Linked DNA regions of Homo sapiens: regions 1, 2 and 3 are each linked to region 4. Evidence: fine-mapped expression QTL. A gene starts in region 4. Each other region holds a variant in brackets. All regions are shown on one strand. Distances are between the middles of the regions. Region 1 overlaps PTPN14 (protein tyrosine phosphatase non-receptor type 14). Region 2 overlaps PTPN14 (protein tyrosine phosphatase non-receptor type 14). Region 3 overlaps PTPN14 (protein tyrosine phosphatase non-receptor type 14). Region 4 holds the start of PTPN14 (protein tyrosine phosphatase non-receptor type 14).

The links. PIP is the estimated chance that this variant, and not a neighbour inherited with it, causes the effect. A credible set is the group of variants that fine-mapping cannot tell apart.
Region 1: its variant is the best candidate, but not a certain one, in a credible set for the expression of PTPN14 in fibroblasts (GTEx, PIP 0.64).
Region 2: its variant is the best candidate, but not a certain one, in a credible set for the expression of PTPN14 in tibial artery (GTEx, PIP 0.76).
Region 3: its variant is the best candidate, but not a certain one, in a credible set for the expression of PTPN14 in prefrontal cortex (GTEx, PIP 0.60).

Annotation. Positions count from the first base shown.
Region 1 is chr1:214,358,176-214,366,202 of GRCh38, reverse strand. PTPN14 (protein tyrosine phosphatase non-receptor type 14) reads left to right here. Exons shown (of 19, transcript NM_005401.5): 18 at 1,528-1,691. Among named protein-coding and RNA genes, the nearest start is that of SMYD2, 81 kb to the right of the region's middle. The variant G/T (reference allele first, on the strand shown) is at 4,892.
Region 2 is chr1:214,348,060-214,356,086 of GRCh38, reverse strand. PTPN14 (protein tyrosine phosphatase non-receptor type 14) reads left to right here. Exons shown (of 19, transcript NM_005401.5): 19 at 1-7,387. Among named protein-coding and RNA genes, the nearest start is that of SMYD2, 71 kb to the right of the region's middle. The variant A/G (reference allele first, on the strand shown) is at 4,817.
Region 3 is chr1:214,423,540-214,431,566 of GRCh38, reverse strand. All of the region lies in intron 3 of PTPN14 (protein tyrosine phosphatase non-receptor type 14), which reads left to right. Among named protein-coding and RNA genes, the nearest start is that of PTPN14, 120 kb to the left of the region's middle. RefSeq lists an enhancer at 3,638-3,687. The variant A/T (reference allele first, on the strand shown) is at 3,481.
Region 4 is chr1:214,546,946-214,554,972 of GRCh38, reverse strand. PTPN14 (protein tyrosine phosphatase non-receptor type 14) reads left to right here and starts at 3,371. Exons shown (of 19, transcript NM_005401.5): 1 at 3,371-3,790. RefSeq lists enhancers at 2,245-3,065, 3,066-3,886, 3,887-4,708.

The DNA of each region.
Region 1 (8,027 bases), 190 kb after region 4:
CCTTTTCTTTTTCTTTTTTTAATTGAGGCGGAGTTTTGCTCTTGGTGCCCAGGCTGGGGTGCAGTGGCGGGATCTTGGCTCACTGCAACCTCCGCCTCCAGTTTTTAAGCAATTCTCCTGTCTCAGCCTCCTGAGTAGCTGGAATTACTAGCTGGGATTACAGGCTCGTGCCACCACATCCGACTGATTTTTGTATTTTTAGTAGAGACAGGGTTTCATCATCTTGGTCAGGCTGGTCTCAAACTCCTGACCTCAGGTGATCCGCCCACCTCAGCCTCCTAAAGTGCTGGGATTATAGGCATGAGCCACTGAGCCCAGCCCTTCTTTCTTTTTTATTTTGTCCTATCTCATTGTACATTACTACTACTAGTAGTACTGCTATGACTAGTACTAATAACTACTACTAGTCATCATCATCGTAGTAGTAGTAGTAGTGATAATAATAGTTTGGTTTTTTGGTAAAGCACTTCAGATTATTTTGTAATTAGATAAGTTTATAAAGGAAAGTATGGATTATTTATATATGTCTGTAAACAGGTGCTTTGAAATTATTTGAATGGTTCAAACCTACTTTTTTCTCTTCAACAATGTAAACATTTCCCCTATAGTCTGGTTTACACTTTTGCCTTAGGATGAGGTTCACTGAGTATCAAGAACCTTTAAACCTGTTTCTGTCCTGAGCTACTACAAAATCTAAATTATTAATTACATTTTGGGGGTTTTTGGAGTGTCTGAGGATTACATTTCCATACTTTTCTCTTTTGTCATGGTTGTGAAAAAGTCATTAAGGCTTGGAATCCTGTGATTTTTCTTTTGTGCCTAATTGGAGTCATGAACGCACCCCTCCCTGCACAGCCCTGCTGAGCCAAGCAGATGCTAGAAGGCATGGGGGGTATCATGACCCCCTCCACCTCACACACATGTTGCCTCCAGAATGGGGGTTCATCTTGGGCTACTCACATAGCCCCGTGGAATCCATGCTGAAAAGCAGACTCCCCAAAGTCTACTTTAAAACCCAAAAATGAAGTCAAGCCTCAGTTGACATTCACTCATCAGTGAGGGGAAGGAAGAAGGGGCAGATGGATGCTCTCTCCCCACCAGAAATTGGCTCTGACAGGCGGGCGTTTCAAGGGGACTTAGCAGTTGTTCTGATCCCAGTCTGTTAATAGCAGGAATTGCTGTAAGTAATGTCTAGAATCATCTGCTTGAGGGACTTAGGGATTTGCAGAGGGGAAAACAGAATTTAATTTTTAAAAAAGTACTATTTAATTTAAAGAACAAATTCTCCCACGAACTAATTGACTCCCAGCTGGTCCTGTCTGGATCCAGGACTGTACATTGGGTACCAGCCAAATAATTAGTGTCTTGTAAGAACTATAAATTATTGTCACTTAAAACACACACACACACACACACACACACACACACACACACACTCACCATCAGTTCTCTTCCGCTCCCCCCTCCCCAACTTACATGCGAAGCCATGGAGGACTTTGGTGACAGAATTTGCATTTTGTCCTGCAGCCTACTTGGAGGAGATCCAGTCGGTCCGTCGCCATACCAACAGCATGCTGGAAGGCACCAAGAACCGGCACCCGCCCATCGTGGTCCACTGTAGTGCTGGGGTGGGAAGGACCGGCGTGCTCATTCTTTCTGAGCTGATGATCTACTGCTTGGAACATAACGAAGTGAGTCATTCTGGGCTTCTCTCCGGATACTCCACCTTGGGGACAAGTCTACACCCTGGCCAAACCTTTGCCTGCACCCTTGCATTTTCAGTGGTTAATTTCCTGTCTCCCAACCAGAGTTTTCCAGGCTCCTGGTTCCTAGTTTGACTCTGACATTTACAGCCCTCCTTATCTTTTTGCCCTCCCACTGCTCCGTGTAGATACCCAGATAAAACAGGAGAAATGAGGGTGTGCAATAGAAAACACTTAGAAAATGTGATCTTAGGCGGCATCTACTTCCAGAAGTCTTTGGCATTTTGTAGATAGCCTGGTTTTATTGTGGGTAATTTTCCATGGTGAGTTATTTGACCCCATATAGTTTCGATGCATCTTGCATTTCTAGGATGTGTTCTGGCCTAAATGCTAGGTGAAAATGTGTCTACTTGGAAAATGTTTTTCATTCTTCAGAGTGAGGTTTGAGGGGTTGTTTGCTTGTCTAGTCTGGTTGTTGCGTGGTGTAGCGGAGCAGAGTAGATACTTTGAGCACGCAAACATCCCCGTCTTTGCATCAGCGGGTCACCCTACCCCTTCTCCCTGCAGAAGTGGGGTGCTGCTGAGCCTGTGCACACAAGGTGCGTGGCATTCCTTTGCTGCTGTAGGATTAGGGAGTTACACTGAGAGACTTTCAATTTTGTGTAGGTGAGACAAACAGCAGTCAAAAGCTAAGGAATAGTTCTACCTTCTAGCTACGTGGGACATTAGAAGTTTTAAGGGGCTTTTGCCTGCCATATCAGCCAAGTAGAGGAGCCATGAACATGTCACTCTTCCTATTTCACAGAAGAGGAAACTGAGGCCCAGAAATAATTACATGATTTGTCTAGTGCCATGTGGCTCTTACGCAGTGGTACTGAAGCCAGAAGCAAGGTCTGTGTCTGGGTCCAGAGTTATTTCCTGTCTTCACTCTGCCTCCAAACGCTGAGTAAGATTTGGTTCTTACTCAGTTTTCAAATTATATGGCTTGAAAAATTAAAGGAAACTTGTGGTTTGGTAGTTTTTAAATTACAGAATGATTTGTTGCAACTCTGTGGAGGAATTTATATGATAATATACCTATTTATTCAATAGCATGAATCGTTTGAAAATCAGATTAAATATTGCTACATGAAGTTTGTCATATTGAATCATCCAGGAAAACAACGAATGCTAAGCTTAGACATTAAACTCTCTGCCCATGAAAAGATAATTTTGAGAATCTTCCAGTCTGTCCATGGGAATGAATGTTTGTGCTGCTAAAAATTGGAAAAGGGGCAATCCCAACTGTAGCCCAATGTTAGAAAAACATAAAACAAAGCTTGAGCGAAATGTTCATCATGGAATCAGTTGAGACTACATAACAGAAATGTCATTGCCCTCTGAGTTTTTACCATTTTGCCCCACATAGGATTTTTTTATTGTTTGCCTCTCTATTCCCATCACTACTAGAGGTCTCTAGAAATCTCTAGAACAATGAGTAACCTGCCACTGAGTCTCAATCCATCCATTGCTAGGAAGACAAAATAAGATGAGGTAGAATCAGTGTGTGCATGGCTTGAGGGCCTCATCATCACCTTCCCCACCTAATCGTCCTTTCCTTCCCTTCATATCACTTTTGTCACCAAATTCCCCCCTTGTTTTCTTTTCTTTTTTTCTTTTTTTTGAGACAGGGTTTTGCTATGTTGCCCAGGCTGGCCTCAAACTCCTAGGCTCAAGTAGTCCTTCCACCTCGGTCTCCTGAGTTGATGGGATTACAGGCGTAAGCCTGGCCACTCCACTTCTTTCCCCATTCCCTGTGCTCCGCTCCCTACTTCCCCTTTTCAACTCAAGAAGCCATTCTGTCTTGTCTGACACGAAAGACTATTCTGTTCTGAGCTCTTTGGAGACCCATCAAAGGCTGAGCCTCAGTGAGGCAATGACATGGGGGCTCACTGAACACCAGATGTTACTGGTCTGGCAGAGCACAGACAAGCATATCAAATCCGGAACAGTTTGGAGTAAGGGATTCGGCCAGTGTGGCCTCCTGTGGACTTGGTGAAGGCTCAGGGTGGTTAAATGCTCTATGGTGTGTCCAAACATAGCGGATTTCCTCAGTGCCCAACTGCATGCCAGAACATTCTTTGCTGGGACGTGGTCAACCCAAAAAGAACTTCTGTTCCCATTGATATTCAAAGATAGCAAGATGACTCATATTTTTCACTTCTCTTCCCCTAGCACAAATATAGCCAGTCTTATCTGTCCTATTTCCCATGGTTGCTATTGGTAGATGGTTAGCGGGGAGAAATGCTCTCCTTTTGTTCTGGTACTGTTCAGGCCTGGCTAGTAAGATCCAAGCCCCTATTTCAGGAGAAGAGTAGACCATGTTTAGTTTATTTTGTGTTTCAAGCAAAGATTTTAACAAATATATATTAAATTGTGGGACCATTTTTCTCCTGTCCAAACTCCCCTGCCTTCTTTCCACAGCTTCTGGATTTAGCATACTTTATATTTTAGTCTGTAATTCATGCAGTTTTAATTCTGTCAATGAAATGGCCTTTCTTTTTCCTGGACTTGTCCCTCTCAGTCTCATTCTAAACACAGAAAAGTTGAGCAGAAACAATGAAACACAGACACTTACAATGAGGTTGGTAGCTGTGCAGTGGGGAGTGGGGACAGCTGTCCCAGGCTGCTCTGGGAAGCCTCCCTGTGGCCCAGTGCTTTTGGTCACTGAGTGTTAGCTGAGACTTTTTAAGGTGCATAGAGTTTTTCAGAAAGCACTCGTTTTATGGTCTGCAGGACACTCAGTCCCTTGGATGTAGCTGTCTGTTCCAGCTACAGCTAATTACAAAAGGTCAGGATCTCAGTAGCCAAAGGGCAGATGTCTTGATCTTGCTGCTTTTCTGAGTAAGTTATACCTCCTTCATAAAGTGAGGAGGAGAAAATGTCTTCTAGACAAGATTGAGCAATTGTCAACTGCTTTGTGCTTCCTTGGCTTGGGGGCAGTTAAGAGCAGAGCCTGTGGGAGTGAATGAATCTTTAAGCCAGCTGGGACCCTTTCATTGAAGACCAGGAGAACTTTCTTTGTCATATCCCCAGACTTGAACATATCAGACAATATACTGTCATTTAGGCTCAGTCCTACAGGTAATTGAGATGGGGATGATGGTAGAGGAGGAGGAGGAGGATGTGGTGGTGGAGGAGGTGGTGAT[G/T]GTGACAACATTGAAAATAATATCGTAACAGCTAACTTGTGTCTAGTGTTTACCATGTATACGCACTATTCTAAGAGCCTGATAGTATTAACACAAGTAGCCTTTGCAGTGACACTGTGAGCTAAGTCCTGTTAGTATCTGTGTTAGTCCATTCTCACACTGCTATAAAGAACTACCTGAGACTGGGTAATTTATGAAGGAAAGAGGTTTAGTTGACTCATAATTCTGCAGGCTGTACAGGAAGCATGGCTGGGAGGCCTCAGGAAACTTACAATCATGGTGGAAGGATAAAGGGGAATTAAGCACGTCTTCACATGGCAGCAGGAGAGAGAGAGAGCAAAGGGGGAAGTGCAACATACTTTTAAACAACCGGATCTCATGAGAATTCACTGTCACAAGAACAGCAAGAGGGAAATCTGCCCCCATGTTCCAATCACCTCCCACCAGGTCCCTCCCCCAACACTGGGGATTTCCAGTCAACATGAGATTTGGGTGGAGACACAGAGCCAAGACCATATCAGTATCCTCACATAACAGAAGAGAAACTGAGTCATAAGTAAATGAAGTAATGTGCCCACTTCCCACAGTCAAGAAGTGGTAGAGCTGAGATTCAGCAGATGAAGCCTTACTCAGAGCCTGTGCTCTGAACACCAGTGTGATCCTGCCTCCTGGCTAAAACCTTTGGTGGGTAGGGGAGGGAACAGCCTTATTCTCTCTATTCTTTTATCTTCAGTGCCCAACCGCAGAGTAATCCTCATCAAACATGAAATTAAGTTCATTATTAGGTGGCTCTAGGTCACATCTTATACTGGTCACTTTGCAATATAATTTAGGCAGAGACCTACTTGTTACTGTCAGAAGCTTATAACCTAGGCTCTGTATTTTGATTCATAGTTCGAAGATTCACATGCCTTTTTTTTCTTTTCTTATTAGGCAGGGACTTGACTTTGTCCCTTTGCACCACTGTGATTGCACCACTGCACTCTAGCCCAGGCAACGTCGCAAGTTTGTGATATGCATTCCTTAGTTGGTGTTGAACAAGAGTGACTGATGGCACGTGTCATGTCATACCTATACACGGCTTGGAAATAGCTTAAATTATTTTTTAAGGTTCAAAGGTTACAAAGTCAGGCATACAGCTGAGTTTTTATTATTTTCTTTTAAACACTTGCTTAGCCCTTGAAAACTTCCTGGGTGCCATCATTTGCCCTGGGTTAAGAGCTCCCAGAGCAGAGTGAATGTGCTGAGGCCACCATGGCCTCCACAGCTCAGGGGTGCTCCAGCCGTATGTGTCCTGGCTAGTCCAGGAGGATGGACATGGTGAAGGTGAGGGGAGAGGACACTGTGACAGCCTCTGATCTGCTCAAGTACCCATGACACTGAATTAATTTCCTTTCATTAATGATAGTATATATCATCGTATATATTCTCAAAGAATTCACACATAGGCAATCTCATTTAATACTCAAAATGTTCTCATTTAAGACTCAAGGCTAGGCACAGTGGCTCATGCCCATAATGCTAAGACTTTTAGAGGCCAAGGCTGGAGGATTACTTGAGCTCAGGAGTTTGAGACCAGCCTGGGCAACAGAGTAAGACCTCGTCTCTACACAAAATTTTAAAAGTTAGCCGGGTGTGGTGGTGTGCATCTGTAGTTCCAGCTACTCAGGAGGCTGAAGTGGGAGGATTGCTTGAGCCTAGGAGGTTGATGTTGCAATGAGTTATGATCGCACCACTGCACTCTAGCCTGGGCTACAGAGCAAGACTCTGTCTCAAAATAGGTGTTCTCGGCCAGGCGCAGTGGCTCACGCTTATAATCCCAGCACTTTTGGGAGGCCGAGGCAGGCGGATCACGAGGTCAGGAGTTCGAGACCAGCCTGACCACCATGCTGAAACCCCGTCTCTACTAAAAATACAAAAAAAAAAAAAAATTAGCCAGGCATGGTGGTGCGTGCCTGTAATCCCAGCTACTCAGGAGGCTGAGGCAGGAGAATTGCTAGAACCTGGGAGGCGGAGGTTATAGTGAGCAGAGATTGAGCCACTGCACTCCAGCCTGGGAGACAGAGTGAGACTCCGTCTCAAAAAAAAAAAAAAGAAAAAAAGTGTTCTCAGTTGAAGGCTTTTACTCCAAGTAGGACTGGTGTTCAGAGATGGCGCTTTGACATTTTAAAGGTTTACACTTAAATTATCTCACTTGATCATGACCACAGTCCTGTGAGATTATAATTGCATTAATAACATTTATTAATGTTAATAAAGGAATAATGAGGTCAGGCGGGGTGGCTCACGCCTGTAATCCCAGCACTTTGGGAGGCCTAAGTGGGCGGATCACCAGAGGTCAGGAGTTCAAGACCACCCTGGCCAACAGGACGAAACCCTGTCTCTACTAAAAATACAAAAAATTAGCCGGGCGTGGTGGTGCGCACCTGTAATCCCAGCTACTCCGGAGGCTGAGGCAGGAGTATTTCTTGAACCTGGGAGGCAGAGGTTGCAGTGAGCCGAGATCACACCACTACACTCCAGCCTGGGCAACAAGAGTGAAACTCTGTCTCAAAAAAAAAAAAAGGAATAATGAGTAATATTTATTAAGCACTCACTGTGCACTAAATGCTTGATATGTGTTTCATCATTTGATCCCATGAGGCAAATGTTATTTCATACCCCATGTTATTGCTGAGGAAATGTAACTAACTAGGGCAAGGCCACACTGCTGTTAGAGGAAAGCATTATTATCCTGATTTTACAGATGAGGAAACTAAGACCCTGAGAGGTCTTAAATCCTGTCATTGGGTTGCAGGGGAGTTGAGAGTACCATTCAGGTCTAACTCCAGCCTTTATGTTTTAACCAGCAGACTAGTCTGTATTCAAAATAATACACCAGGACAGGTGTGGTGGCCCACGCCTGTAACCCCAGCACTTTGGGAGACTCAGGTAGGAGGACTGCTTGAGCCCAGGAGTTGAAGGCTGCAGTGAACTATGACTGTGCCACTGTACTCCAGCCTGGGTGACACAGCAAGACCCTCTCAGAAAATTTGAAATTAAATAAAAATAAAATATCCCACCAGTGACACATGATGACCAGGTTCTCCAGTTGCTGATATAAACTGTTTGATGCATAAAACCCAGCCAGGGCAGA
Region 2 (8,027 bases), 200 kb after region 4:
CTCGGGAGGCTGAGGCAGGAGGATCACCTGATTCTAAGAATTCGAGACTGCAGTGAGCCGTGATCTTGCCACTGTAGTCCAGGCTGGGCTACGGAGAGACCCTGCCTCCAAAAAAAAAAAAAAAAAAGGAAAAAAGGTTGTCAAGAAAAACTAGATGTTAGGAGAAAGGAAAATTTAATTGCAGTTTTTTTTCTTAGAATTGACTGCTGTGAGAGTTCCATATGCCTTTCTTCATTGCTGCTTTTGTCCCCCGTGAGCTAAAAAGATGGAGTGACATCAAATCAACCAGAAAAAGTATGCCTTTGTGACATCCCATCACCACATGCCAACAGGTATATATTCCCCATTAAGTTCTTCGGAATAGGAATCCTCTGTTTCAACCTGGCCAGGTGTTGTGGTGGCTGTACTCTAGTTAGACTCGGAATATCTGGGGATGGAGGGCTTCCCCTGTGTCTTCTACTTCAAGGTCTGAAGGCTCAGTGAAGGAGTATAATCTGCTGATCTTTGTAGATTCTGGAGTTTTGTTGTATGTCCTGGAAAGAAACCCATTAGTATTACATGTATTTTCAGTGAACAGAGCTTATAACCCTTATTATAAGAAGCTCATCAATAAGCAAAAAGATACTTGTTTCCTTTCCTTGGAGGTTTTTCCATCCTTGGGATATTCTGCTGTTAGGGATGTTTTAGCAAGTGGTCTCAGTTACTGGTTTATTGCGTGATGAACAACATCAGTATTTATCTTTTATCTCTAAGCCCCAAGGTGGGCACTGTTAGAATATGTCTCATGTGGACAGCATATAGATCTGGTGCGTCTTTGAGGTCGTCAGAGCTCATGGGCTTCCCTGAAATTCATCCACTGTCCCTGCCGTATGCTACGGGAATATTCATTAGTGTACAAAATGCAGGGAGGAAGTAGGTTTAATATTCAACTTTCTAGCCAAAGTTTATATTGAAACCCAAAAGAAAACATTTAAGAGTTGTTCCACATATTTCACTTTTAAAAACAAATGCCTTTGGTTCTTTAGCACATTTTGCATTCCTTTTCACATCTCCAGTAAATGCCAACATATCTCCTGTTAAATTAGCAGCAGCCATTTAAAGTCCTTTCGGTGGCATCTGCATAATAATTGCCCAGAGATGCTTTATATCTGGGAAGCAAGCCAAGGAATAAACCTTGAAGCAAAGTGTATTAAATTAGTTATCTAGTTAGAGCTTTTGGAATGATTTCCTGATGATGTATCAAGTCTGAAGCTGGAGCTGTCAGTGTCTATTGCTGCAGTTTGGATTTGAAGGGAGAAAATGTAAAATGGAGGAAAAAAAAGTTACCATCTCACAACAAAGCCATCAAACATTTTCCAGCCGCTGTTTTCGAGGTTTTCCAGTTGAACTGTTTGGTTTCTTTCATCCACACTCATTTGGATACATTGACCCGAGGTATTCATCCTTGTTTACTGTGGTCCCTGAATCATGGGGGCTGAATTTGATGTCTTCATCCTTGAGATGAGCCTGCTGGCTTAGCTGAGGAATGTCCTGCTGAGGTTTCTTAGGTTTCCTTGGGTTCTAAGGATATACTGGATATACCATCTTTTAGCAAGAGTATCTGGTAGCATTTACAGATAGCATAGACATTGGTATGCACTTCTTTCCCCAGATAGGAAGTAAAGGAGGATTTAGTTGCATGAAAAAAGGATGTTAAACATTGATTACATAGGAGTAAAGATGAATGAGCTGCAATATTCAGTCGGAGCTAAACAATAAGATCAGGGAAGGTAAAAATACCTATGTGGAATATTTTGAATCGTAAGCTTTTGAGGAGCTTAAATTGAGAGAATTTTACTTTTAATTTTGTAGATTGAGAAGAGGAACCGCTTTTTAAAATTATAGCTAAACTGTCATTGTTTTCCTAAGAGTCACTTGGCCATCTCTGGCCCCCTCTTTCATCAGCCTGAAGAGAGGGTCTTTGTAGACTGCTGAGGGTGGGCCTTGTAGGACTTGACCATGGCTTACACCTACTTAACCTTTATCCTGCTTTCTTTCAGCTTGTGCTTTTCAGTTATAAACTCCAGTGGGTACAGCAGGCTGGCCTTTTCATCCAGCTGATTATTTTTCCAGCTTAATATAGATTGACCCATATGAAATTTCCAATAATGGACCATATTTTCTGCAAATAGACAGTACTCGCATGGATCACCTATATCTTCCCCCTGATACACTGTGGGTCCCAACACCAGATGTCATTTCTCCAGAGCAGTGCTAATGAACACAAAAGGTATACCCTGGGTGGCCCAGCTCTTTTCACGAACGTGCTGCCCTGCTCATAGTGATCCTTGCATCACTTGGTGAATGGGCCATCTCCTGGGACATGGAAGTTGCAGAGGTAGATAGTGCACTGCAGCTTCTCTTAAGCCGGATTGGCCATCAGGCATATCACTCTGGAGTTTTTAGCTGCTGTCCTTTCCCGATGAACAGTCTGTATTAGCTGACCTCAGCCTACTTGTTACGTGACGTATGGGTCCCAAAAGTGTCCTTTGTCAAAAAGCAGAATGTGCCTTCTAGTCTCCCTTTCCCCATCTAATGGTGTATTCGATGGTGAAGATGAGTACAGTTGACCACCCCTATCTGTGGGTTCCACATCCCTATATTCAACCAAGTACAGATTGAAAAATATTTGGGGAAGAGGGGAAACCCACAAAGTTCCAAAAAGCAAAAGTTGAATTTGCCACATGCTGAATACTACATTGAATTCACACAAATGAAGTGATGTGTAGGCATTGAGTTAGGTATTGTAAATAATCTAGAGATGATTTAAAGTATGCAAGAGATGTGCATAGGTTATATGCAAATACTGTGCTATTTTATATAAAAGACTTGAACATCCATGGATTCTGGTATTCTCAGAGGGTCCTTGATTGCCCCCTTTGGTAAAGGACAACTATTTCGTTACTGATTTTCGTTTGGGGAAGATCTGTCAATCCCTTGAGGTGCGGGGGTTGGGGGGATGGAGGGTACAGGGCATTCTAGGATGTGTGCCAGGGAGCACAGATTCAAGGGATGGGATTGAGTCAGACCTGTGTTCTTACTCAGTGTCAGAAATAACTCTGTGGAGCTCCTAGAGTAAGACATTTCCGGAAGCACCACATAATTACTGTTGGGCTCTTAGGGTAGCCCTTTTAGGGAATTGAGCATTCCCATGTTTTACCAACAATTATTCTGCTGCTGTGTTTTATTATATTGCCAATGGTTTTGAGACACTCATCATGCTCTTATTTAGTGATTTCTTTTCATGAGCAGAGCAACAGCTCATCCAGCATGGTTTCCAAATGGAGAAATTTGGGTCTTCTGTAGAAACCACACAAATTCTCCAATGGCCTACAGCCTTATGGTTGGCACACTAGTTGGCCCTATAGGGTGGAAATAAAGCTGTAAGATGTTAAACTGCATTTGATACTTCTCTTGAACGCTGAGCAAGGAAGCAAAATAGTTCTTGTCTTTACTTAAGCTTCTAAGACATTTTGGGGCAAAGGACCTTACAGATGGCGTCTGTTGAAAGTAACAGCAACGTGCCAGGGAGAAATGTGGGGGAAATCTCATCAAATTCTGCCACCTCAAATGTGTTGTCCAGAAGTCAGTGTTATTCAGGGGGCCCTGTGAAACTTGACCACCAGCTTGCGCCATCAACACTCAGCCTTTATCCAGCCTGCTCTCAGCTTTTGTGTTTCTGTTAGAAACTCAGATAGGTAAGTATTTTTATTCAGTAGACTACCTTTCTTATCTTTTCAGCTTAATATAGCTGCATCTTCTTTCTCAAAGCCAAACTAAGATATTCTCTATTAAAATGTCCATGAGCCTAGCATTGAGTGTCTGGCATCCATCAATTTCATAGACTGGAAAATGATTGTTGTTTGGTACAGTAAAGAAGAGGATGTGCATCAGTTCCTACCGTTTGCAGCTTTGTTTTTAGCCTTCCCATTTTAAAAATAAATTCAAGGACATTGAGTTACAAGGCAGGAGGGCTGGAGCTACTGGGCAGCCTGAATATGACAAGCATTTGTGTGGAAAGTCATTGCTCCTTCTGCCACACTTTGGGCCATCAGGATCATTCTTTCCCAGAAGTGCCATAAACTTGCTCAAAAGTTTCTATAAATGGGAAGAGGGAGAGGAAGGATTTTTGCATCAGTCCTGAAGTTGCTATCCAAAAGTTCTCTGTTTCACAAATAATTTTCTGAACTCTGGAATGCCTCTCCTACTCCCTGCCTCCCTTTCTGTAATGTCAGAGTGATGGAAACCACCAAGTGGCATGCTAGGGAAAGCCTGCAGCAGTGTTGGAGTCTATTTCACCCTAGCTCATAGTTTTAAACTGTCTTCACTGTTGAGGTAGAGCTTGATGAATGTCATGGATTATGATGTGTGGTTTATCATATTTGCCTGGATTTGCTGATCAAAAGCACCATCTTCCCTCGCCTGCTGCTGGCAGCCTTTCCTTGCCTTGCTTGTTAGCAGAGCATTCTGCTTACCCATGTGGCTCCCAGAGTTAGCAGCCCCGGCTCTTGGATTTCTTGATTCTTCTCCCCTGTGATCTCAGAGGTGCTGCAGAGGACATTCCCCTTTAGAGCAAGTCATGTTTCTATTCAGGCCACAAAACTGGGATGTACATGCAGTGACTTTGGTGTTCCTTGTCTTGTTCAGGGGAACGGGTGGGACTGTTGTGTGCTGTCACCCTCTTCATTCCATGAGCACCTTGTTCACTTAGGGTCTGCTGCCTTTTTTTTTTTCTTTTTCTTTTTTTTTTTTTTTTTAGTTTTTGAGATCGTGTCTC[A/G]CTCCTGTTGCGCAGGCTGGAGTGCAGCCTCCAAAGTAGCTGGGATTATAGGCGTGCACCACCACACCCGGCTAATTTTTATATTTTTAGTAGAGACGGGGTTTTGCCATGTTGGCCAGACTGGTCTCAAACCTCTGACCTCGTGATGACCCCCCTCGGCCTCCCAAAGTGCTGGGATTACACCCAGCCTCTGCTGCCTTTTCATATTTCCCCATCTGCTTTATGGATCAACTCTCAACAGTACACTTTTTCTTTTCTTTACCTACCCTATGAGTGCAACCCAGATGTAAGAGTTAATCCTCGTCAGAGAATCATTGCCTTAAACCTCTCAGAAATATGTAATTAGGAAATCTTATTTTAATTTTTTAAAAATTGCTTGTATAGTTTCAAAGAATAAGATCTGGCAAATGGCCAGATGTGGTGGCTCACACCTGTAATCAAACCAGCACTTTGGGAGGCTGAGGCAGGCAGATCACCTGAGGTCAGGCGTTCAAGACCAGCCTGGCCAACATGGTGAAATCCCGTCTCTACTAAAAATACAAAAAAAAAAAAAAAAAAAAAAATTAGCCAGGCATGGTGGCACATGCCTGTAATCCCAGCTACTCAGGAGGCTGAGGCAGGATAATTGCTTGAACCCGGGAGGTGGAGGTTGCAGTGAGCCGAGATCATGCCACTGCACTCCAGCCTGGGCAACAGAGTGAGACTTTGTCTCAAAAAAAAAAAAAAAAAAAAAAAAAGATCTGGCGGATGAAAATAACCAGAATGAAAATAGCTAGAAAACTCAGCAAGCAGGAAGCTCCCTTTCTCACCCTTTTGTTCCCTTGCCGATAGAATCAGTCACTATTAGAAAAAATGAAAGACGCTCTGTTTAAAACAATGATGACAGCAGTACTTAATATGTATTTCGAGGTGAACTTATATAGATTGAGAGAGGCTGCATTTGGCAGACTGATGTATAGGAAGACCCATTTGTTTCTAGCTTCTCCCTGCAGGGAAAATGCTTTCGTCATTATAGCCTCTTTACACAGACTGGCCATTCTAGTGAAACAGGTGGTAAACCTTTGGGCTGCCCAGAAACATTTTATCTGTTTTCACTTACCTAGGAAGGGGAAAGATTAGCGGGTCATCCAAAATCTGTATGTAAGCTATCTTCATTTTCTTCCCCAACCTTCTCCTCCTGGGAAACACAAATGCTATCTCATCTGACAAAAGGTTTTAGAGGATAAAGCTGAAAAGATTGGATTGGGATCTTTTTGTGGCTTGGGGCGGAGCCTTTTGCTAAAATCTCAAGAATGCTGCTTTGAGTTTAGCTAGGGTGGCTCTCAGAACTGGGGTGCCTGGCATTCTCAGCATTTCTCAGGGGCCTCCCACCTCTGACAACTGCAGTGTTAGCTAATACATACCTTGAGCATAGAACTGAATGCTGTAATTCAGAGCCATTTTTTTTTTCAACTTGAACATTGTACAATTTTACTGCAATTTCCTTTGAACTTTCTTGCCACTGTTTGGAATCTTAAAAATTCATTAGCCTTCTCCTTTCTGACATAAAGCTACTCTTCATCAGAGATGAGTTCCTATGTATGTCCTTTGTTCCTTCAATAGCTAATTAATGTGCTTGAGGATACTTCAGTGGAAAAAAAGGTTTAAATATGCAAATTACTAATAAATGTGTAACCTTATGTAACTTGTGTTACATCAAGTAACAAGCTAATCTAGTTTGTTTCACTGGACTAGGCTTGTGCTCCCTACTTCAGTATTTTGATGCTTTCCTTGATCTTTGTTTCACAAAATGTTGTGAATTTTGGTATCATTCAAAACAAATGACATTTATTAGGTTTCATTTTGAAACGATGTACAGACAAGTCCCCAACTTAGAAACCGGTTTGTTCTTAAGGTTCTTGCGTCAGCCCATAGAAGCCCACTGACCTCCACCACAGCCCAAATGGAGGGCTGTGATAGCCAGATCTGGTTGGCTTTTGTGGGCTGACCCAGACATTTAATCACCATCTCTTATGTTGTTGCCGTAAGAAATGCATTCCAGGTTGGGACTTGGGATCCTGAGAGCACATTCGCCCCCTGTGGTGGCCGCTTGCCACCTTGCAAGATGGAAGCCCAGTCTCCTTACTACCAAACTGTAGTTGTAAGCAGAGGGAGGGGTGAGATGTTTATAGGACATTCCCTAAGCTGGGGAGTGATTTTTATCACTATTCATGTCAACTGTACTTTGGTATAGACTCCCTATCAATTTAATAATATGAAAAGCCTAAAATAAAACTATGCATGCTATTCTATGTGCTATTTTATATCAGTAAATAAGCTTATGCTTGCCAGTTGTATACACAGTTATGAGGTGTATAGAACTGACTTTGACAGTATTTTTTGCACTGTTTCCTATCTGTTTTTATAAAGTCTTATTTAGATATTGGACCTTGTTGATGTTCTCACTGCCCTTGTGCTTGCTATAAAATGTTTCATATGTGCCTTTACAAATGTGAGATCTTTATTCTAACCTTTTTTTGTAAAAGATATCTATTGATTTCCATATGCAATAAACCTTTTTTTCAGAGAAAAGTTACATCTTCTCTTTTCTGTACTGTATATGTTTGCATTAGTTGAAAGTGCCTGGGAAAACCTGCATGCTTTGTTTTCTAAAGCCCATTTATTGCTACCCAGTTTTTAGTCCTGCATAACCTTATCATACTGAAGATTTAGTTTGAAATTCCCAAGGTTGTCACTGTTAGAAGAAACCTGAAAGGGGTGATCACTAGGCAAGTGGAGTGAAGAATACATAGAAATGGGTCTTTCTCACAAATGCAGCAATAAGCCTCGTTAAGCTCCAAGCCCCTACTCACTCCTCCTTCACTGTCATTTACTCAGGTACCAAACTGTTGATGTGGAAAAGGCAGGCACCAACCAGGCTGCTGTAGAAAATTTAAATTCTTGCTTTTGCCTTTCAGCTTTATAACAGCTCAACTTGTGTCCAGGTTTAAAGGTGGCTGTCCTGTCCCAGACTTTCAGCCAGTAACCACCATAGCACATTCACGGTGAACCCCTCATATGTGGGTAGATGCTTTATGTATCCTTGGTAAGTAACAGAAAAGTATAACAACTTCTCCCAGTAATGCATTGACAACCCCATGACTATACAAGCAGTTGTTGAACTACCAGAGATCCCAACTAGTTTCACATCAAAAAAATGAGAATACTGTAA
Region 3 (8,027 bases), 120 kb after region 4:
TTAAATATAACGAAATGGTAAAGAGCACAGGCTTTACAGTCAGACAGACTTGGATTTGAATTCTGCTCTGCCATTCACTCTTTGTATGTTCAGGTGAGTTATTTATCCTTCTTAAGACTCAGTTTCTCCATGAACAGAAGCTCTTGTGAAGATTATACTGGTTAATAAACAGAAAAGCACACTTTGTAGTACCTAACACTATCATCATTATTATTTGACCTCCCAATTTGTATCTGTACCACCCATTTATATAATGTGGTGTACATACCAACTCTAAAGCATCCTTCTAAAGGATTGCTTTCATCATTTTCCTTCCTTTGTCAAAAATACATAATGTCTTACCATTGCTTAGAAGATAAAGACAGACATCCAGAGGCATTTGAAGCATGGCAAGCCTCTGTCTTCCTTTTTGTCTTCTGCTTCCTTACATAGCCCTATTTTACTTGTCTGTGCCGTTCAATGTCTCTGGACACCCTGGGTTTCTCACTTCTTCCTCTGCTCTTTGCAGTACTTGAAGTATCTCCCTTTTCCTCTTTCCTTCTTGCCTTAGAAGCCTCCTTTGCCTTCCAGACTCACCTCTGGGCATTCATTCAACACATTAATTATTTTCAAAGTATAAGGTATTCTGCAAGATATAGAGTGGCACAAGATGTCAGTCCTGTCCTGAATGGGGTTTTCAATCTATTTGGGTAGATTAGATGGTCACATAAAAATATTTGAGCAACATATTAGTATGTGTTGGATGCCAGCTGAAGGTACCTTTCATGGGTGGAATGATAAGGAGGAGCTTTGGAGACGGGCATTATTCAGTGATCTCCAGAGAAACAGAACTAATGAGATGTATATGTAAATAGGGAGAGAAACTTATTTTAAGGAATTGGCTCACATAAATGGAGAGACTTGACAAATGCAAAATCTGCAGGGCAGGCCAGCAGGCTGGAGACCCAGGGAAGATTGAAGTTCAAGTCCAAACACAAATTCTTCCTTCTGCGTGGTCCATCTTTTCTCTGTAAGACCTTCAACTGATTGGACGAGACCCATTCATATTGTGACAAGCATTCTGCTTTACTCAAAGTCTACTGATTTAAATGTGTTAATCTCATCAAAAAATACCTTCACAGAAGCATCTAGAAAAATGACCAAATATATGGATATCGTGGCCTAGCCAAATTGACACATAAAATTAACCATGACAAGAGATGTCCCTGGAATTGGGGCTTTGAAGAAGACATTGGATTTTGGTGAGTCAGCATTGTTAGGCAGGAAAACAGCCTGGACCAGGGGCTATAAGCCTGTTATCTCTCCCAAATACCTAAAGCGGTAGCTCCCATCAGTATCAAGGGCTCACTGATGGATGAGCGGAAAGTGTGAAGGGAGAACATTCCGAGCCAAGGAAATTATGTAAGAGGGGAGGAAAATTGCAATGCAAAGTCCTCAAGGATACCTAGAATGTGGTAGGAAGCAAATAATCGTAGCACAGTTAGCCCTGGATTTATATTTCAGCTAAAGAATTTCTTAAAGTTCAAGGTTTCCCTATTACTGTTGGGTCACACGTTCACAGGATGAAATCTCCTTCTGTATCTTGAAACTAAGTCATGCAATTTCTTCTTTAGAATTTTAATCTGATGAGGTCATTAAGGAAAAATATTTTCTTAATCTAGAATTCCCAGTATGTTCATTATAAAATAAATTCCTTTTCTTTCTTCTCATAAAACCCTGTTTTGAAAAAATGTATCTACCTTTAGTACTTCCTAAAATTATTTTGTCAAATACCCTATATTGATCCTTAGCATGAAGTAAGTAGTGTAACTTAACACAATTTTACATAATTAATATTCTAGTTGGCTTGGACAGCCCATTTTGGGCAAAATATCAAGGATTTTTCATTCATTGTTCATGCATGCATTCAATAAGTTTACTTGAAGACCATTTGGGGGATAAAAAAATAAATATTTACTGAGCATCTGTTATATACAAGGAAACTTCTGGTTACTGGTAATACAGCACTGAACAAAACAGATGAAGTCCTTGATCTCCTGAAAGTCACCTTTTTTCAAATATTTGTAGTAGTTTATGACTGTCAATGTTTTTACAGAGTTCAAATTAAGAATTATAAAAGCATGTAGTACTCTAGCTATCTGAATCATCAAAATCAGCTACCAAATTGTATTCTCTCAAACAATTGTGAAACAATGCATTTTAAATACTAAATAATAGCTTGTTTTCATGTAATATTATTACAGATCTCCTTCACTGAGAAGATAATAAACATATAGAAGATGGTCATGTGAACATATCTATTTCTGGGTGGTAAACTATAAAGGAGTCCATTATGTTTATTCTTATTTGCATATACTTATGATCATATTCTTCTTTAGACTTAAATCTGTGATCATGACTTTTATGAGGAAATCATCCTGTCTATAAGCATGGTCATGCCTTTAAGAATTCATGAAAATTATACGGAACGGGCTAACATGAAAAAGTGAGGCAATATTTGGGATTTCATTCTGTGAGGAAAATGTACTGGACTTAGTTTACTAATGTAAAGTCGGTGGTGGCTCTAGGTGAGTTTTCATAGAAACAAGAAACTTCAGATGGCAGAAATGCATGGCTTAGTAACTATATTATTAATTGCACAAACTTGTTTTTTCTCCCCAATCTTTTTAGTGCATGCCTTTTGATCAAGTTATACTGCAAAGACCATTTTTAAAGTTACAAAAAATGATGATGTTTTTAAAGTGTAGTGGTTTGATAATAGGGCTCAAGTGGGAAGAAAGGAAATACCCTTTATTTGGGCCTTCCAGAGATTTTGCCAAACCCTGGGTGAGAGCAGTGTTTCATTTCCTGATTCCTACCACCTGTCCACTTATTCACTGCACATTTACTACATGGTCTCTTTGCCATTCTTAATCTGGACTCAAAAGTCAAATAATAGAAATCAGAGGGAAATATGTGTGGACTTCGTTCTATAAAGATAGTTCTTTTACAAAAATAGGCAGAGGATTTGAGGGACAAGGAAGAGGAAGAAGATGATAAAAAGGAAAAGGGAGAATCCATTACTATATCAAAGATACTTCCTCTTTTAAAATGATTAGATAAAATGTTTGACTGACGTGGTTTGATGACTATTTTGAATATGTAGGTTTTAATGAAAGATTATGTGGTTATAATTTTTAGAAGACAGTCAAATCCGTTTCCCCCAAATCTGTTTTGTCTGTCAGTTTTCAAAAAGTGAGAAGTCTTTATCTGAAAGGTTTAGTTTAGTTGCTCAGGCCAAAAATCTTGCAGTCATCCTTGAATTCTTTCTCCCATACACCACATCCAGCCTTCAGAATATGTCTGGATTCTGACTACTTCCTTCTGCGTCCACTGTAACCTCTCTAATCCAGTCTGCTGTCATTTTTTCTGACTGGCATTTCCGCTTCCACCCTTGCCCCTCCCAGTCCAGTGTCTACAAAGCAGCCAGTACCATCTTGT[A/T]AAATGGGTGCCTGTTTATGCAGCTCCTTTGCTCAGTACCTTCCACTGGTTTCCCATCTTACTGTCGTCAGAACCCTTACCGTGCCCTGCGAGGCCTTTTGTGGTTTGTACCACTTCCTGCCTTTTCTGTCAGCCCAACGATTCATCCTCTTGCTCACTCTTTGCTACATTGACCTCTTGAACATTCATGAATGCACGACACTAGCTCTCCTGAAAGCCTTTCTACTTGCCATTCCCTTTGTTTGAAGTGAAAACCTCCATCCCCCAAATATCCACATGGCTAGCTCCTCATTTTTTTTTCAGATCTTTGCTCAGAGTTCGCTTTTATTAGAGAAACCTTTCTTGACCACCTCCTACCTTGCTACTCTCTGTGTCTCTTGCCTGCTTTTTTCTCATTGGACCTATTGTTTATTTACTTGATTTTTGCTTGTCTTCCCCACTAGACTGTGAGCTCCATGAGCAAGAGCAGAGAATGGGTTTGTTTTGTTCACTGTGATATCCCTAGTGCCTAGAATAACTCCTGGCATGTAGTAGGTGCTCATTAAGCTTTTGTCAAATATGAATGAATAAATAATGGAATATATGTATGTATATACTTCTGATATTTTACCAGTAAACTAAGTTGGTTTACTTTTTAAATGAAAGTACTATAAAAGGATAAGAAATCATTATACTAATTTAATAGAATCTGACAGCTTTTATAATGATTTCTATTCAATACATTTTATGCTGGTTTCATGAACATTAACAAATTATAGGAGGCCTTATATTTTCTGCAATCATAATTTTTTTTTTTTTTTTTTTTTTTTTGAGATGGAGACTCACTCTGTCGCCAAGCTGGAGTGCAGTGGCACGATCTCGGCTCACTGCAAACTCCAACTCCCTGGTTCAAGTGATTCTCCTGCCTTAGCCTCCCGAGCAGCTGGGACTATAGGCATGCACACCATGCCTGGCTAATTTTTGTATTTTTAGTAGAGATGGGGTTTTACCAGGTTGGCCAGGATGGTCTCGATCTCCTGACCTTGTGATCCGCCCGCCTCGGCCCCACAAAGTGCTGGGATTACAGGCGTGAGCCACCACGCTGGCCTGTAATCATAATTTTTTTTAGGAGAAGCCTGCTGAGATTTTTTTATTTTATTTTTGTTTTTAAAGAGAGAATTTGAATACCTACTTAGTACTTCTCTTCTGGAGAGTGCTCTCCTTTGAATATGGCCTGATGCCCGCAGGGTGTGCCCCGTACAGCCACTGACTGCCCCACACTGGCATCTTCCCTGGGCTTCACGCCCCTGAATTTTTGGTTCCTAAAGAGACATTTAATGCGCTCCTATTCTGGTTTCTAATGAGAGAGTTTTAAGTTCTTAAGTCTAGGATGAAAAGGAGGAGTGTGTTTGTAGCAGCCTTCTTTCATGAAATGAAAGAATTGAAGAATTTCTCTGATTTGGGAATTATAGTTCTCTGCTTGGCAATCCTCCATCCCTCTACCCATGTCCTAAACAAAAGGTTTCCTATATTTATGTGTAGTTACTTGTCACTTTGGCCATCATTTTTTTTTTTCTCTAGGAAGTTACAGTTTCTAACTTAAAGTTTACTATGTGTCAAGAGTTATAAAAGATGGTCTTGTAGAAACTAAGGCAATTAGAAAACTAAAACTCTAAAAGAAGAAAGGATGTTCAAAATGATTTTTAAATTGCATTTAACAAATGAAGTATCTCCTCCTTTAATCCTAGAGCCTCAAGAAGGGTTTGAAAGGAAGAATTGTAGAGAGACATTTCCATGCTTGAAAATATCAAGCATGATTTTGGCAGAAATCACAGCATAGGAAGATACTAGATTCTTGGGCAGTGAGATGTTTGCTGGTTTGGTATTTTATCTCTGGCAGTTGTTGCCACATTTGATGTCTTCAGCTGCTTTGAAGATTCTGCAAAAGAAAATTATTCATTTCTAACATTAAAAATTCATTATGTTGTCAATGGATTCATGTTGTGATCTGTTTATAGCCTTCTGTAGTTTTTTTCTCTTCTTCCTTCCTTTTTTTTTTTTTTTTTTTTTTTTTTGCGATTTATGCTCCAGATTGTAGAAACTATAGACTAACCTACTACACAGGCACAATGTTGTAATAAAAGAGCACTTGACTGTAAAATCAGAAGACTTGGCAAGTCACCTACCCCCTGGGAGCCTCCGTTTCCCCGTGGATAAATGGGATAGTGGCTATCTTGCAGGGTTGTTGCGAATATTAAATGACAGGAAATATTATACATGACAATTCTTGGAAAACAACTGCGCAAATGCAAAGGGCTATCATTGTTAATAACTATTTGAAGGCTCTGATTTCTTAATATCTAGAGAAATTGATAAAAATTCCAATTGTGGAGAATTCAGTTCTTCCAAAGCTTTTGATAGACATGTGGTGTGTTTTTATTATTTTTTTCATAGTACACTAGGAACAACGTAAAGTTTCTTTCAGCCAGTATGTAATTGACTGTCTTTTAAATATGTGGCCATAATAATATCCTGCTTTAATGTGAATGCATAGTAAGGCGGTCTGTTGGGGGAAATACAGACATGAACAAGGCAGTCTTATAAAACAGCAAAGGAGGCAAAATAGATGCACATAATTAAGTTGTTTGATCAGTACCATGTTAGAGTTACAAAATCAATGGGAACACAGAGGGCGGAATGAGTTATTCCAATTTGTTGACTGGGGAAAGGCTTTATATTATGTAATACCTAGAGTGTAGGTGATTTTGTTTTTTTCTTTCTGCTGAGTCCAGTGTTGTTTTATGCCACCTATTTGGGTGGCTAACTTCCAGAAAAGCATTCTTTTTTACCCACTGGGTGTCTCTGAGTCAGTAAATGATCATAATGCTTTTTGTGCAACTACCAAGTCTAGGATCATCTACTGAGTCTGTGAATTGTAGAATAGAGAGAGGTGGTTCCCGCCTTCAAGGTACTTCTGGGCTAGTAGGGTGCTAAATAGAGATTGATGGGCTGGATGGACCTGGTGGCCCATGGCTGTAATCCCAGCGCTTTGGGAGGCCGAGGCAGGTGGATCACTTGAGGCCAGGAATTCGAGACCAGCCTGGCCAACGTGGCATAACCTCTGCCTCTACTAAAAAAAAAACAGAGATGGATAGGCATGTTATCATTACAAATGCATAAAATCTTTAATATTAAATTGCTGTGATTGGGGAGAGGCTGAACATGGATCATAGTGGCCACATGGAATGTAGGGTGGGCGGGCCGGGCACGGTGTCTCACACCTGCAATCCCAGCACTTTGGAAGGCCAAGGCATGGAGATCGTCTGAGGTCAGGAGTTCAAGACCAGCCTTGCCAACATGGCAAAACTGCATCTGTACTAAAAATACCAAAAATAAAAAATAATAAAACAAAGTTAGCCAGGTGTGGTGGCACACACCTTTAGTCCCAGCTACTCGGGAGGCTGAGGCAGGAGAATCACTTGAACCCGGGAGATGGAGGTTGCAATGAGCCAAGATTGCATCACTGCACTCCAGCCTGGGCAACAGAGCAAGACTCTGTCTAAAAAAAAAAAAAAGAAAGAAAGTGGGGTGTCCCACTCAATTGTCTCACCACAGGTCCATGCTATGGAAATTAAAGTCATCCAGCAGGATCTCCGAATTATCTCTCATATTGCTGACTTCTGAGCAGATAGCCCCTATTTTGCTATTTCTGATAAACATTCCATCCAGCTTTTGTGTTTGTTTGTTATGTCTGTGTTTTCAAACGTTCTTTTAATATGGGTTACTTGTGTGGTACTCTGATTTTTTTTTTTTTTAATAGAGTCTCACTCTGTTGCCCAGGCTGGAGTGCAGTGGTGCAATCTCGGCTCACTGCAACCTCCACCTCCCAAGTTCAGGCAATTCTCTGCCTCAGCCTCCTGAGTAGCTGGGATTACAGGCGCCCGCCACCACACCCAGCTACTTTTTGTATTTTTCATAGAGATGGGGTTTCACCATCTTGGCCAGGCTGGTCTTGAACTCCTGACCTTGTGATCCACTTGCCTCAGGCTCCCAAAGTGCTGGGATTACAGGCATGAGCCACCGTGCCCGGCCAGTACTCTGATTTTTTGTTGTTACTGTTTTGTTTTGAAACTGAGTCTCACTCTGTCACCCAGGCTGGAGTGCAGTGGCGCGAACTCTGCTTACTACAACCTCCGCCTCCCAGGTTCAAGCGATTTTTCTGCCTTAGCCTCCCTAGTAGCTGGAATTACAGGCGTGAGCCACCATGCCTGGCTAATTTTTGTATTTTTAGTAGAGACGTGGTTTCACCATGTTGGCCAAGCTGGTCTTGAACTCCTGACCTCAAATGATCCACCCACCTCGGTCTCCCAAAGTGCTGGGTTTACAGGCATGAGCCACAACGCCCTGCAGGTACTCAGATATTTTTAAGCTGTGAATATGAGAAAATGCGCCTTCAGTGATTAAGAGAGCATGGGGTGAGTAGGGGCACCTGCAGTGATGAAGCACGAAAGCCTAGAAGCCAGCAATTAGAAATTTTCAAAATTTAGACTGGCCAGTAAACAAAGCAT
Region 4 (8,027 bases):
AGTGATGTGTTCAGGACCTATTCCATGAGTCGAATTCCTTTTCACCCTGATGTAGTATAAGGAGACTTGAGTGTGACAAAGATTTAGGAAATGGGTTTCTTTTTTCTTTTTGAAAGAAGCTTGAAACTAGCTTTTATATATTTATCCTGAGAATGAAAGGTTTTTGTCACTTCAAGCTGTACTTTCTATTTAGAAAATATTCTTTTTTTTTTTTTTTGAGACGAAGCCTTGCTCTGTCGCCCAGGCTGGAGTGCCATGGCGCGATCTCGGGTCACTGCAAGCTCCACCTCCTGGGTTCACGCCATTCTCCTGCCTCAGCCTCCCAAGTAGATGGGACTGCAGGCGCCCACCACCACGCCTGGCTAATTTTGTATTTTTAGTAGAGAAGGGGTTTCACTGTGGTCTCGATCTCCTGACCTCGTGATCCACCCGCCTCGGCCTCCCAAAGTGCTGGGATTATAGGTGTGAGCCACCGCGCCCGGCCTTAGAAAATATTCTTATTTGTATTGCCTTTCTGTGATCTATTCTAAAGAAAAAGAAATATGGCTAGTCAGATACACTCTATAGGCTTTTAAGTTAATAACGCATATTTTTTTTCTTTTTCAAGAGAGGATCTCACTCTGTCACCCAGGCTGGAGTGCAGTGGTGTGATCTCAGCTCATTGCAGCCTCGGTCTCTCAGGCTCATGCAATCCTCCCACCTCAGCCTCTCTAGTAGCTGGGACTACAAGCCTCGAGCTACCATACCTGACTAATTTTTGTATTTTGTGTAGAGTTGGGGTTTCGCCATGTTGCCCAGACTGTCTTCCTGTAAGTAAAATTATCTAAATTTTTAAAATGTGTCCACAGGGTTAGTGCTAAATCTTAGCTTTACTTATCATTGAACACTCAGCCACATTCATTGGAGTCTCAACATTCATTTTCATCTGAAGGCGGTGTGAAAACAGTCCTGTCCCCAGACACTGGCTTTATCCACTGGCTTTATTGCTTAGCTTCCTCCACAGGCATGCCATCTATCTGGAGAAGAGTACTTTGATGGAAGTTTAGTCCTGGGAAAGACCTCAGAGATGAACTATTCCAACCAAGCTCTGCCCTCTTTGCCACACTCTACTTAGAAAATAAATTCAGGCCTAGAGGTGAAGTGCCTTGATCAGGGTCCCAAGGCTGGTCAGAGGCAGAACCGGAACCCTTGTGTCTGCCCAAGAAGGACAACAAGTCCTTTGCTGCTTCTTTTATGCCACAACAGCCTCAGGGTGCTGTGCTCAGTTTGGTAGCACAGTGATGTTAGAGCAACACAATATATTTCCTAGTGTCTTTTCACTAGAAAAGACACCAAGCAAGAGGTCTCCCATCTCCCAGGAAAGAGCAAAGGCCAGAGTTTTACATTGAGATCCTGAAGGCATTTTCTTATCTTTAATCCTAATCCTGTTTGGGTCCAATTTCAAAGAGATGAAGAGCATGCACTTTAGGCCTGACAGACTAGGGCCCTGATCATATCTTCCTAGTTGTATGACCCTCAGTGAGACAGGTAATTTCTTCATGCCTCACTTTCCTCATCTAGGAATGGGGGAGTGCTTTCCACACTTTCTGGAACACAGTCAGGCACTGCCTAATGTTTTCTTTGGAAACCCAGCACGTCTGTACAGCTATTTCCTTTAAAATGTGAGAAAGTTGATTTCCCTTCAACCTTTTCTTTCCATCACTTTTGCATTGCACTCGGCGTTTTCTCTAATTTACAGTTCTAGAGATTGGCAGATGCTCGAAGAAAATCAGAGTCACTACGGATTTATTTATTTTATTTTATTTTATTTTATTTTATTTTTTTGAGAGGAGTCTGGCCGTGTAGCCCAGGCTGGAGTGCAGTGGCGCGATCTCGGCTCACTGCAACCTCCGCCTCCCAAGTTCAAGCAATTAACCTGCCTCAGCCCCAGAGTAGCTGGGACTACAGGCGCACGCCGCCACCCCCGAAACATTTTTTGAATTTTAGTAGAGACGGGGTTTCACCGTGTTGCCCGGGCTGGTGTCGAACTTCTGAGCTCAGCCAATCCCCCAGCTTTGGCTTCCCAAAGTGCTGGGATTACAGGTGTGAGCCACCGCGCTTTTTGGTTTCCAATTCTCTTCCCCAAGAGGCCAGGAATTTTTGCATGAGTTGCCGGACACTGAAGTGATTTGGGACAATACATTGTGTGCCAACGACTTCAAGGTCCCTTTTCAACAAAGGACTGGAATCTTACCGAGATAAATCCCAAGACATGTTTGTAGCAATGCAAAGGACCACAGAAATCTAGACAAATTATTTAATTTTGCAGCTACAGAAACCTAGGATCTCAGGGGCTGGGATACTCCTCAGTTATCCAATCGGGCAGGGCCTAAAACCCAGGTTCAGTCGCCTGGCTCCGAGCTTTTTCCATCATACCAGCTGCGTCTCATTAACTCCACCTCCGAAAGTGCTAAGGAAGTTCCCTCCCAGTGCCTACCCAGGCAGGGTGGGGCGATTCTGTGGCATGGAACAAACCGGGAAAACGACATTTTCCAACTCTCAGCACACAGGCTGCTTTTTATCATTCCTACGGGGCGGGAGGGGGCAGGGAGAGAAGGCTAAGACACCGGGTCCAGTACCCAGAGATTCTAGGGAGAGATCTCTGAGATTGCCTACTTGGTGAGGCCACCTTACTTTCTCCTGGTCTGTTTTCCCCTGTGGGGTGGCTGCATGAAACGTCCTGCTTGGAGGGTTCCCCAATATAAGGTGGACTATTCTGAATGTAGGTCGGGGTGAGCAAGTTCCTGCCGCCGCCCCGTCTCTGCGGTCCTCGGAAGTCTAGGTGGGCTCTTCCTTGCCTTGCCTCTTTCTCCCCAACGGCGGGAGCAGCCCAGGGTTGGGGTGGCTGCGGTCGCCTTGCTCTCTCCACTTCCACGTCTCTTACTCCAGGGAGTTTCATCCGGTCCTCCGTCCTCGGCCCCCACCTTTTAAAACATTTTCCAAAACTACCCCATTAAAAGTGTGCGACTTCTCCGGGCCTGCAGAAGGAGCTCCTGCAGCCCGGCATTCCTCGGATTCCAGCGCTGTGACGTCCCCAAGGACGGCGCGCCTCCAGCTCGGGAGCTCGGGAGCTGGGGCTCCACGTTTCAGCGCGCGCCCGCGGCGCCCCCGGCGCGCGCCCTCCCGGGCCGCATTCCTCCCCGCCCCCGGCCGCGCGCCCAGCGCTCCCTCCGCCTCCCGGCCCCCAGGGCCGCGGAGCCCGGCTCTGGGGTGGGGGAGCCGTGGCCGCCGGCGCCTGCTCCGTCCCCTCCCACTCGCACGGCCCCTTCCTCCCTCCTCTCCCGGCCGCTCGCATTTCCTGCCGCTCTGGCTCTCCCGGCCCCTCAAAGTTCTTTCCAACTTTTTCTCGGCGGAGTGAGCGCAGCGGGCGCAGACTCGGGGGCAGGTTGCTGTGCTTCTCCGGGCTCAGCCGCCTGCTCTCCTGGCTCAGGTCCTCGGGGAGCCCTAGACAGACATCAAGTGGCCACTGGCGCTCCTTCCCCTCCCAGCTGAGCCATCCTCCCCGGCCTCCTCGGGCGGGACAGCCCCGTGCTTAGGTTTTTCTCCTTTTCTCCCCCGGTGCGCCTCTGCTCGGACTCTCGCGCCGGGATCGCGGCGGAAACCTCCCTCCCCTTTCGCCTCCTGCGGCTCCTTCCCTTCGCCCCTCCTCCGCCAGTCACTGGAATCAATTCCGTGGGGAATCGGCTCCGCCGCCGCGAAGGACAGCCTTTCCGCGCGGGACTCCGGGGCGCCACGGGGGCCATGTAAGCAGGTAAGCCCCGTCCAAGCCGGGAGTTGGGCCCGAGGTTGGAGGCCGCCTTGGCGCTCCGGGCGCCCTGCAGATGACTTGGGCAGACGCTGGCAACGCCAACTTGCGATTGGCGCCCCGGGACGCCTGGCAGGGCAGCCTGGGGCGCGGGGTGGCCGGGCCGCAGGGGTGTTATCTCGCGGTGGGAGCTGCCCGCGGTGAGGCGCAAAGCTGGTCCCGGGAGCGAGCTGGAAGGTGAGCGCAGTCTGGGGAGTTTGTGGTTAAACCCACACCCTGGTCCCCTCTCTCCATTCCCTTCTGCGTTTTGGGAACGAGAGAGGGCCTCGGAAGGGCAACTAGAGATACCTAGACCTTGGGGGCTAGAGGATGAAAGACGAACGACGTCGCGGTCGCTGCAGCGGTAGGGGGATGCAGCTGCCCGACGCTCCCAATCACACCCCACCACCACCGGGAAGGAATCTTGAGGGGAGCGGAGTTTTCCTGCCCTCTCACTAGGCCCCAGTGGTGCCACCGAACTCCTGGGCGTCGAGGCTCCTACTTGGGTGGTCGAGCTGGCTCGTAGAAAAAAAGCTGTGGCCAAACAATTTCAGATCAGGTCTTCACCTCAAACTTCCAAAGTTGTAGGTATTAACAGCCTCTCCTTCCCCACGTGACCCCCAGATCTCAGGTTTGAATACTTGTAAATGGGGTTTACACCTTTTCGTTTGGAGAGAGCAGTGAGGTAACGCTGCCCCTATCTCCCTTTCCCTCTCACTTCCTTGGGTTCTTGTTCTCCAACCTTCTCATCCCCACCTACAATTTCAGAAATTGTGGGGTTTCCGCTTAAGTCTAGGGACTGGCTGTCGCAGGTTCTTTGTGAAGGTGAGGAATCTCTAGACTGCAGGTGCGGGCAGTTACAGAGTTTCCACCAATGTGTTAACTTCTTGAAATGGATTAGTTTACTCATTCATCCAACAAACCCAGCTTCTACTCTGCTAGGAACAGGATAGAAAGATGCTAAATGAGATCACAGGGCAGGAGTCTGCAGCCTAGTGGAGGAAACTTGAAGGCCGGTGAAGAATGATAATACATGGAAGAGGGGTTCTGTGAGAGTCTGAGGCGAGCTTGGTCCTGGTGAAGGGTGCACTACACTTAGAGGATAGAGGTTGTGCTCCTCTGGAGGGTGTATTCCAGGCAGAGGAAACAGCTCGTGCAGAGTGAACACAAGAAGGACAGAAAGTTTCCCTAGCCATCTGGGGGCCTGAGGGGCATTTATGGCCATGTTGGTGCAGTGTTGCTGGGATAGCATTCTCTCCACCCCCAATATCAGAAATAAATCTAGAAGCACGTTAGCCACTTATGGGAACCACAAGTAGCTTACCGAGGAGCCAAGGCCTCCCTAATTGGATACACCTCCATGCCTGCTGCTGTTTTACCACAAGCAGCTGTTGTATGATCATCTACATTTTAATTGGCCCATGCTCGGTTTCATTAAAATGGTATTGATTCTTCTTTTTTGTCCCCCACATTCAAGCAATGATTCCTTTTTTAAAAAGGCTGTTTGACAGCCGTAGGTGTGGTAATACCGCAGCATTACGGACCTTGTATTATAAAGTTAGCTAATTGTTTGGTGATGAGGTTGAAGCTTGTGCCATAGAAATGACAGCCTTAATGAGCGGGAGCTGAATGGCATGATGCCCTTTTTGCCCAGTCTGAATGGGTGGCCATGAGGTGCAAAATTCGTTCATCTGTATGTCACTAAGTTTGTTATACTTTTCTCTGCTTTTAAGTCATTACTATTGCTTTAGCACAGTTGTGCTAAAGTCGTTCTTTTCTCTGAAACTTTATGAAAATAGAAAACACTATCTTGCACATTTTTGTAGACTAATGGCCCAGGATTCAGCAAATCCTGCCTAGAAAAGTTTCTTACAATGCAGTAGCATTCTGTACGTGGTTTGCCTTTCAAGGGTGTCTCTTCACTGGACTGAAGTGGTGTTGTAGTATTGTTCATAGTGGCTGAGTCCTGGCTGAGGTGGCAGACATCCAGCTTTTGGTGACCTCAGGCCAGTACATCAGAGTGGGAAGAACACACTGACTTCCTACAACTTTGGGTGTTTATCCAAGCCCCTCTACCAGCATCTTTTCTTATCTCAGGAACAGCCCCTTCACAGAAGTTTTCCTGAAGGTGTAGGGACCTGCATGAGAGAAATGGCTGAAGAGAAGCCCACTCCCACTAATCCCAGACATTTGCCCAGTTTCCATCATTGGCTTAAACATGTAATTATTATTAACACTTGAGTTATTCAGATTTGTGCATACTGTGTCATGCTGGTAGCTGTAATAGAAAGGACAGTTAGGCTTTTAATAGGGAAGCACCATAAGGAATTCAGAGAAAAATCAGAATTTTTAGAATAATTCTTATTTGCCCTGAACGGATGGGCTAAGTGTCAAGAACTATGAGGATTTTTTATTTTCCAGTGCCTTCCTTCCTTATTAGAGGTTTAAATTTGCTCCGGGGAAGCAAACATCAACCCTTTGATTACATATTATAGCCCCCCTGGGTTCCATATTCTTGTCATTTTTGAACAAGGATTTCATCAAATTCTTGCATTTGAGCTTCATTACTTAGTCACCAAATGCTGTGTTTTTAAAAAATTCATTTTAAGCCTGAGAACAGTGCTGTGAGCTTTGTTAGAGATAAGGCATGAGAAAGACAAGATGAAATACTTAATTAGCCAATTAAGGAATGAGGGAAAACAAACACGAAAGCTTTGGTAGGGAGGAGGTTCAAGTTAATGTTAAAATACGCTTTTGGATCTCCCCTTACGGATTTAAATTGATTTAATTTACGCTTCCTCTGTATGCATCCCATGGAGGGCTTATTGAGTGGTCCAAGGGGTATGTGTGGCAAATTCTGTAGCTTTTCCTGGCTGTCAGTGTGCTGGAGCAGGCGGTCCAGGTTTGGGAGTTTGAAATATAGCTAGGTTGGAATTCTAGCGCTGCCATTTTTTAGCTGTGTGATGTTGGATGGACGTCATAGCCCTTCTGAGCCTCAGTTTCTTCATCTGCAAAATGGATCTGGTAACATTTGGCCTCTCAGGATATGTATGGAGAATTCAGTGTCATGCTGTATAACAGTACCTCACACAGAATAGGTCAAGGATGGCTATTTATATGTTCAAGGACTTGTATGTGGCCATGAATGTGCTCTTTGTGTGTGATTTTTTTCAGCAGCCTGAATTCACATGTGTGTCAACATACACATAAAGCTTTGTTTTTGACTTTTTTTTTTTTTTCAGTCTATTGGCTCAAAATAAACATGTTGGCTGGCAGCTGCCATGTGGCTCCTCCTACAAGAGGAAATTGAGAGGTGGGGGACCAGGCAGTAGAGAAGTTTGAGGAGGGAAAGCCACTGAGAGATTAGAAGGGCAGAGAACAAGATCCTTTTCCTTGTATACTTCTTACTGTAATGATGGTCCAGTGTTTTATATAAGGATCCTTGTATTTCTAATGTTGAAATCTAGTTGATTAAAGAATGTTAGGATAACTCTGTCTGCCTTTAACTAGAGTACAAAAGCTAGCTGCTGTATCTTTGCAGCCTTGATTTCCCTTTTTGAAGCCCAAATATAAACAGTAAACTGCAACACTTCTAGTGTAATGCCAGCCACTGGTTATTTGAACTTTAATGTTGTCTTTCATCTGAGAAGCCTAGAGTATTTGACAAACGTTAAATCATAGATCTTCGTATCAACCTCAAAGCGGAAGGGAATGTTAGAAGGAATGAACAATGTTAGAACAATGTTAGAAAAAAGGGCAGGTATGCAGCGTGTGTTCTTGAAACAGGATGGCAAAGAATTGGTTAAATCTTTTCTGCAGGATTGCGTGCAGGGCTGGAGATCATATGAAGGTATCCTACCCCTTTGGGGAATCGGGGAGAGAGCCCAGGAAAATGCAGGCCTGACCTGGACTTTTGTAATAGGAGGGGAGAGGAAATGTATCTTGCCCAGACCAGCAGTGCCTTTGCCATATATTGCATGCATGCTGATTATGAAAATAAATAATCTTATAATTATTTATAATTCTGAATTAAAGGATATGATGCAATGCTTGTGGATGAAGGACACAGAGTAGCTGTGTAAAAGGTAATAGTGACTAAGTGCCTTTTTGTGTGATAAGGGTAGTTCTGGCTCTAGGTTGGGTTATAAATGACATATTAACATTGTTTTACTTTCCTTTCCTTTTTCCTGTTGGTTCTGTGTTT